Homo sapiens: one gene and its partner. The protein of the gene in region 2 purifies or fractionates together with the protein of the main gene of each other region. This does not show direct contact. Each region holds a gene or a part of one and is shown on either strand. Other genes may lie near its edges.

Region 1 (3,822 bases), on a different chromosome or scaffold from region 2:
TAGCCTATTGCTCCTAGGCTACAAACCTGTACAGCATGTTACAGCACCAAATGCTGTAAGCAACTGTAACATAATGGGTAATTGTGTAACTAAACATATGTAAATATAGAAAGGTAGAGTAAATATATGGCATTATAATCTTTTGGGATCACCTTCCTATCTGCAGTCCCTCACTAACCAAAATATCGCTAATGTGGCAATGGCACTCGACTAAAATAATGTACATTCCGGGAAAAATAAAATTGGAACTGCCTAAATTGTCCTCTAATAAGAAAGTAGATGATTGTGGTATATTCACAAAACAGACTACAGAGTAGCTAAGCAGAATTAATTGGCTCACTATATATCCACAGGACTAAATTTCAAAATTATTTTAAGTGAAAAATGCAGGTTGCAGAAAGAAAGATATAGCATAAAACCATTATATACATTTTAAAGACACACAAAGCAATATATTGTTTTTGAGCATAAACATGCATAGATGTAGACAGAAAGAATCTATACCAACTTCAGGACAGTGATTACTTCTGGGAAAGGTCAGTGGTCTCAAGAAGGGATACTGCCAGGTGTGGTGGCTGCCACCTACAACCACAGCTACTCAGGAGGCTGAGGTGGGAGGATCACTTGAGGCCAGGTGTTGAGACTAACCTGAGCAACACAGAGAGATCCTATCTCTAAAAACTTTTTTTTAATTAGCCAGATGTGGTGGCACACCTCTGCTAGTCCAAGCTACTCAGGAAGCTGAAGCAGGAAGATTGCTCGAGCTCAGGAGTGTGAAGCTGCAGTGAGCTATGACTGCGCCACTGCACTCCAGCCCAGGCCACCAAGTGAGACTCAGCCTCTAAAAAAAATTTTTAAATAAAACTAAAAAAAAAAAAAAAAAGGAGCAATACAAAGAAGAGTCAATTGGATCTGTAATGTTCTATTTTTTATTTATTATTATTATTTTTGAGACTGAGTTTCACTCTTGTGGCCCAGGCTGGAGTTGTGATCTCGCTCACCGCAACCTCTGCCTCCCAGGTTCAAGCGATTCTCCTGCCTCAGCCTCTCGAGTAGCTGGGATTACAGGCATGTGCCACCATGCCCGGCTAATTTTGTATTTTTAGTAGAGACGGGGTTTCTCCATGTCAGCCAGGCTGGTCTCGAACTCCCGACCTCAGGTGATCCACCAGCCTCAGCCTCCCAAAGTGCTGGGATTACAAGTGTGAGCCACCATGCCCAGCTGTAATGTTCTATTTTTAAAAAGATAAATATCTGAAGCAGATATCATATGTTAACATTTCTTAAACCTCAGTGGTAATCACATGGATATATGTTATTCACTGTGCTTGTCATGCTTGAAATCTCTTAAAGTGTGCATGAATTATACTCATTCAAAAATACTTAGGGCTTCCAGAAATGGTTACATCTACAAAAGGAATATTTAGTTTTCACTATAAAAAAAAATAAGTTGGAAATTAGTAGTTTAAATCACTAGGAAACTGAAGTCAGTATAAGGTAGCTCTCAGAGCAATATTAAGGATATCAGTACTAAAATACGAAAGAGTATCTCACTGAGAGATTTTCACTTAAAATACCACAGCCAGAGTATAGATGTTTTAAAAAGCATTACAGCAAGTGCTTAGTGTATTGCCCAATGAAGGTATTTGTAAGGGTTCGCTCTTCTGCCACTGCCAAAATTTTCAATGGTAAGATAATATACTTTACCTTATACTTTTGCACCTTAACTTAACTACTTGAAAAAAAGAGTCATCCTATACATAAATTCCTCTGGGTTTCAGAAAGAAGAAGCTATCTAATGATGCTTTAAAGAATTGTTTTGTTTCCTAAAATTCATTGCATTTGAAGATACTTTTAAAAATATCCACTAAAGCGATACACAAAACTAATAACTACTGCATGTAAGACTGCAGAAAGTTGATATACTTTGGACAAACTTTCATTCAGGAAATGGACTACCAAACACTTTATAGTATTTGTTTTGATTTGTAGTACTGCACATGAGCTATCCACAATTTACAGCTTGAGTTCCAAAGTTTCATCTGAAAGTTTGTTTGGTAATGATGTCATTCACCCACAAAATGTTATAAATGACTAGGTTTCTAAACAAAGGCTACAAAAGCTTCTGATATTGATACTGATACTGAATATTCTGGCCTGCCCTAGTCAAAACACTAGATTCGACAAATTTTACCTCTAACATCTTTCCATACCCCTTTCAACTCCTAAGCAAGTTCTCTCTCGTTGGTTCCTATTTCACATTATCTTACTCCTATCTCTGCCAAACAGATGACCTCGACTAGGTTTAAGGACTTATGAAGAAAGAGATCCACTGGCTTTATTTGCACTAAAGTATGTGTATTTTCAGAAAGGGACTGCTGAATCTCCAGTAAGTGAGATTTCTGGCAATTTTAAAAGATAAGCATACAAAACAGTTCAGGCACTGTGGAAAACTTTTCTTTTTTCTTTTCCAGTAGTGGGAAGGTAGTGGTATCTTCTGATGACCTAGAAACTGTACACTGAATAACATCACACATTTTATTCTTCAGCCAATTTCCCAGATAAACTATATACGGTGCTTCATTGGAAAAAACTTCAATTACATAGTGAATATAAATCCCACTTATAAGATGATGTCAGAATATCAAAAGTAGTAAGAATGCAAAATAAACTGTCCCCCACAAAAAGGAAATATAAAACCCATTAAGAGTATCGCAACAGCCGGGCTCAGTGCCTCACGCCTGTAATCCCAGCACTTTGGTAGGCCAAGGCAGGCAAATCACTTGAGGTCAGGAGTTCGAGACCAGCCTGGCCAACATAGCAAAACCCTGTCTCTACTAAAAATAGAAAAATTAGCTGGGTGTGGTAGCACAGGCCTGTAATCCCAGCTACTAGGGATGCTGAGGCAGGAGAATTGCTTGAACCCAGTGAGTGGAGGTTGCAGTGAGCCAAGATCGCGCCACTGCACTACAGCCTGGGCAACAGAACAAGACTCTGTCTCAAAAAAAAAAAAAAAAAAAAAAAAAAAAGAGTATTGCAACAACAACAAAAACATTTGATAAAATTCAACATCCCTTCATGATTAAAAAAACTCTCAACAAATTAGGCATAGAAGGAATATATCTCAAAATAATAAAGTCTATACACAACAAACCCAGAGCTAACATCATACTGAATGAGGAGAGGTGAGATCTTTCTTCTAAAAGCTGGAATGAGGCAGGGATGCCCATTTTCACCACTCCTATTCACCACAGTACTGGAAATCCTAGCCAGAACAATCAGACAAGAGAAAGAAATGAAAGGCATCCAAACTGGACAAGAGAAAGTCAAATTGTCTCTTTGCTGATTATATATCTGTAGGTTTAGAAAACCTTTAAATCAGTAGCATTTCTATACATCAATAAGGATCTAGCCAAGAAAGAAATTAAGAAGGCAATCCCATTTACAATAGCTACCGAAAACAAACAAAAACCTAGGAATACATTTAACTAAGGAGGTGAAAGATCTCTACAAAGAAAACTACAAAACACCAATGAAAGAAAATAAATCAAAAAACATCCTATGCTTGTGGAAAGAATTAATATCACTAAAATGACCATATTGCCAAAGCAATCTACAGATTCAATGAAATCCCTATCAAAATACCAATGTGATTCATATGGGACCAAAAAAGGAAAAAGAAAAAAGCCCAAACAACCAAACCAAACCTGGGCAAAAAGAACAAAGCTGCAGACATCACATTATCTGACTTCAAAATATATTATAAAGCTATAGTAACCAAAACAGCATGGTATTGGTATAAAAATAGACATGTAGACCAAT
Region 2 (3,592 bases):
TCCATTTTTCCTCTAAGCATTAAGGAGTCAGGCACAAAAGACTACATATAGTAGAATTTCACTTGTAAGAAATGACCAGGCTTGGCCGGGAGCCGTGGCTCACGCCTGTAATCCCAGCACTTTGGGAGGCCGAGGCGGGCAGATCACCTGAGGTCAGGAGTTCAAGACCAGTCTGGCCAACATGGTGAAACCCCGTCTCTACTAAAAATACAAAAATTAGCTGAGTGTGGTGGCGTGGCACCTGTAATCTCAGCTACTCGTGAGGCTAAGGCAGGAGAATCACTTGAACCCAGGAGGCAGAGGTTGCAGTGAGCCGAGATCATGCCATCGCACTCCAGCCTGGGCAACAAGAGTGAAACTCCATCCAAAAAAAAAAAAAAAAAAACACTACTGAATTGTATAGTTTAAACTAGTGGATCTTAGAGTATGTGAGTTGTAACTACTAAATAAATACATAAAAAAGAAGTTTCATTATAGCCAGTGTAGCTCCCCCAGGGAGTAAATGGGAGCATCTGATCCCTCTCAGTTTCCTTGTGATAGTAATAGAAGTTACCGAAGCAAACACTGCACAATTGGAATGTGCTTTATTTCAGGGAAATATAAAGGGAAATGAATGCTATTATAACTTGGTAGAACAGAAGAAATGGCTACCTAGCTTTGCTTTCCAACTACAAACATAAATGAGGATCTCAGCATTTAAGGTAAAACATGATAAGCACAAAAGGAGAGTTCACTGGGGACTGGACTCCCTCATTTACTCTAGAAATTATGAGAACCAGCAGCAATATTCCTCAAGCATCCATCTCAACATCAAGTTCCTTTGTTTTATTTACCAGATGACCAGGAATCATAGATGAGTTTGGCTGCAACTGTGTCTTCCACTGCCATTCCTAGAATAGACAGAAATTTGGTTCGCCTTTGGTCAAAACAACTTTTCTTGAAACAACCCAGGCCCCATGGCTGGAAGTTTCCTGATACATGTCCATGTTGCCAATGCCTATTGGAATAACAGGGACTGATACCCAGAGATGAGCTCAGGCTTCAATTGTCTGCAAAGGGGCAGAGAATATGATAGTAAGAAACACCCACCAACAAATTGTGCATCTTTCTAAATCTAGCTCAGGGCTGAGCAAATTTTTTTTTTTAATTTTTTTTTTTTTCGAGATGGAGTCTCGCTCTGTTGCCCAGGCTGAAGTGCAGTGGCGCGATTTTGGCTCACTGCAAACTCTGCCTCCCAGGATCAAGTGATTCTCCTGCCTCAGCCTCCTGAGTAGCTGGGATTACAGGTGCATGCCACCATGCCTGGCTAATTTTTTTTTTTTTTGTATTTTTAGTAGAGACAGGGTTTCACCATGTTGACCAGGCTAGTTTCAAACTCCTGACCTCAGGCGATCCGCCCACCTCGGCCTCCCAAAGTGCTGGGCTTACAGGCATGAGCCACCACGCCTGGCCTGAACAAACTTTTCAAAAAGGGTCAGACAGTAAATCCTTTAGGCTTTGTGGGCCACAGGGTCTCTATTACAATTATTCAACTCTGCCTTTAGAGTAGAAAACACAGCCAACAGGTAAACAAAAGAGCCTGGCTGTGGGCTGTGTTCCAGTGAAATTATTGATGGGACTGAAGCTTGAATTTTGTATCATTTTCAGACATCATGAAATATTTTCTCCCCCCATTCATTTGAAAATCTAAAAACCATTTCTAGCTCATAGGCCACACAAAAGCAGGCAGCAGAGCAGGTCTGGCCCCAGGACTGTAGTTTTCTGACGCTTGGTCCAGTTTGAATGCTGCATCCTTTGATATCTCCCCTTTGTCTTGTAATTTTGGTAGATACCTTAACCTCTGCACCCAGCACAGATAATTAGGTGCTTGATACGCATCTGTTAGATGAAACAATGCACCAATAAACTGATCCCCAAAAGTAAGAAAGCAAAAATTGCCAAAAAGGACAGAACAAGTTTCTGCAGCATTTTGGCTCCTTAAGTAAGGGCTGGCTGACCTCTGATCTGCCATGACCTTTGAAGTTTTCAGACAAAACTGGATCCATGTGATGTCTTTGAACCAGGCTCCAGATAAAATTGTATTGCCTTTGTCTTCCAGTGCATGAGAGATTTTAAAGACATTTACCAACCTGCAAGGCATGGATACTTAACCAATGGCATGGGCTCTGGGTGGCCAGAGCGCTCCTGATGCTCTGCCAGGCATTTACTCTTTTGCTGCTTGATCACGAAGTATGGAAGGTCATGAGAGGGGGACAGAGGGCACTCTCGAGGGGCTCAGGATAGCAACTGTTTACCAACCAGTTTGGGAGTATTTCAGTGTTTTAGGTGTATCAGCTCTGTTCCCATGTACTTTATTTATTTATTTTTTGAGATGGAGTCTTGCTCTGTTGCCCAGGCTGGAGTGCACGATGTCAGCTCACTACAACCTCCACCTTCCGGGTTCAAGTGATTCTCCTGCCTCAACCTCCCAAGTAGCTGGGATTGCAGATGTGCACCACCACGCCTGGCTAATTTTTGTATTTTTAGTAGAGATGGAGTTTCACCATGTTGGCCAGGCTGGTCTCAAACTCCTTAGCTCAAGTGATCTGCCCACCTTGGCCTCCCAAAGTGTTGGGATTACAGGCGTGAGCCACCGAGCTCAGCCTGTTCCCATGTACTTCTGTTTCCTTCAATCTCATAGGGTGGAAGAGGACCTGGGGCAAGGGACAGACTGGCCACTGGGAGCCCACCCTTTGTTGGGCTTCTATAAGGTACCCCATACAACTCAGGTGGTAGGGGGCTCCCCATGGAAGCCCTCCTCAAAGCAGCAAGTGGGAGAGTAGGGAAGGAGGGAATGAACAGGGCTTAGGCTATACTTTCCATCTGACTCTTTCAGGTTGGGTCTCTGCCATTTCCCTTAAGGTTCCTGTCTTTTAACATCTTTGTCCCCTGCCCCCTCCACCTCTGAAGGGTACCTTCTGAATTTCATCAAGATCTGCACCGAACTGATTCATTTTATATGCAAATCCCACCTAATCCTCAATGGTAACAGGTGGTGAGGAAACTGAGGCCTACAGAGGTCAGATCACTTGCCTAAGGACACCTGCCTTTGAGTGGCGGGGAAGGGACTCTGACCCAGGACTGCTCAGTTCCAGAGTTCATGGGCTTAGCACTAGGCTAAACCATGTAAATAATTGACCTGAATGATGGAGCACAATGATTCAGCTGCAGAGTCTGGTGACTCATTGCTCTTTCCACCAATGGGTGAACCTGCCTTGTGCGCTAGTTGGATTTGTGCCCAGGGAGCAATGGATCTTACCCAAAGACTTGAACACGGTGGTCTTCTCACAGTGGGCTGGTTTCACTCCCTTAATCACTTCTCCCAGCTCAGCAAAGATCTCGGCCTAGGAAACAAACATACGCTGACCCAGGCATGAAGCTAAAGTCTGTGCAGGGTTGGCTTTTGAAGCCAGCCCAGGGAATTCCTGAATTGGATAAGAGATAAATTTGATTAAAAAAAAAAAAAAAAAGAGAGAGATCCTTTGTACACTGAATGATATTAGGGAGGAGGCTGGCCCCGAAATCCTTTTGGGGTGGCATTTGCTTTTGTGAT

The links.
Region 1: the proteins of CRYM (region 2) and NSF purify together in Homo sapiens (affinity purification with mass spectrometry; one large-scale study listed by BioGRID and IntAct). This does not show direct contact.

What each region holds. Positions count from the first base shown.
Region 1 is NC_000017.11:46,596,996-46,600,817, reverse strand, and holds part of NSF (vesicle-fusing ATPase), read right to left. Parts: intron 1-3,822.
Region 2 is NC_000016.10:21,257,956-21,261,547, forward strand, and holds the end of CRYM (ketimine reductase mu-crystallin), read right to left. Parts: intron 3,384-3,592; coding exon 3,299-3,383; intron 891-3,298; coding exon 826-890; 3' UTR 566-825; downstream 1-565. UniProt on the Homo sapiens protein: Catalyzes the NAD(P)H-dependent reduction of imine double bonds of a number of cyclic ketimine substrates, including sulfur-containing cyclic ketimines.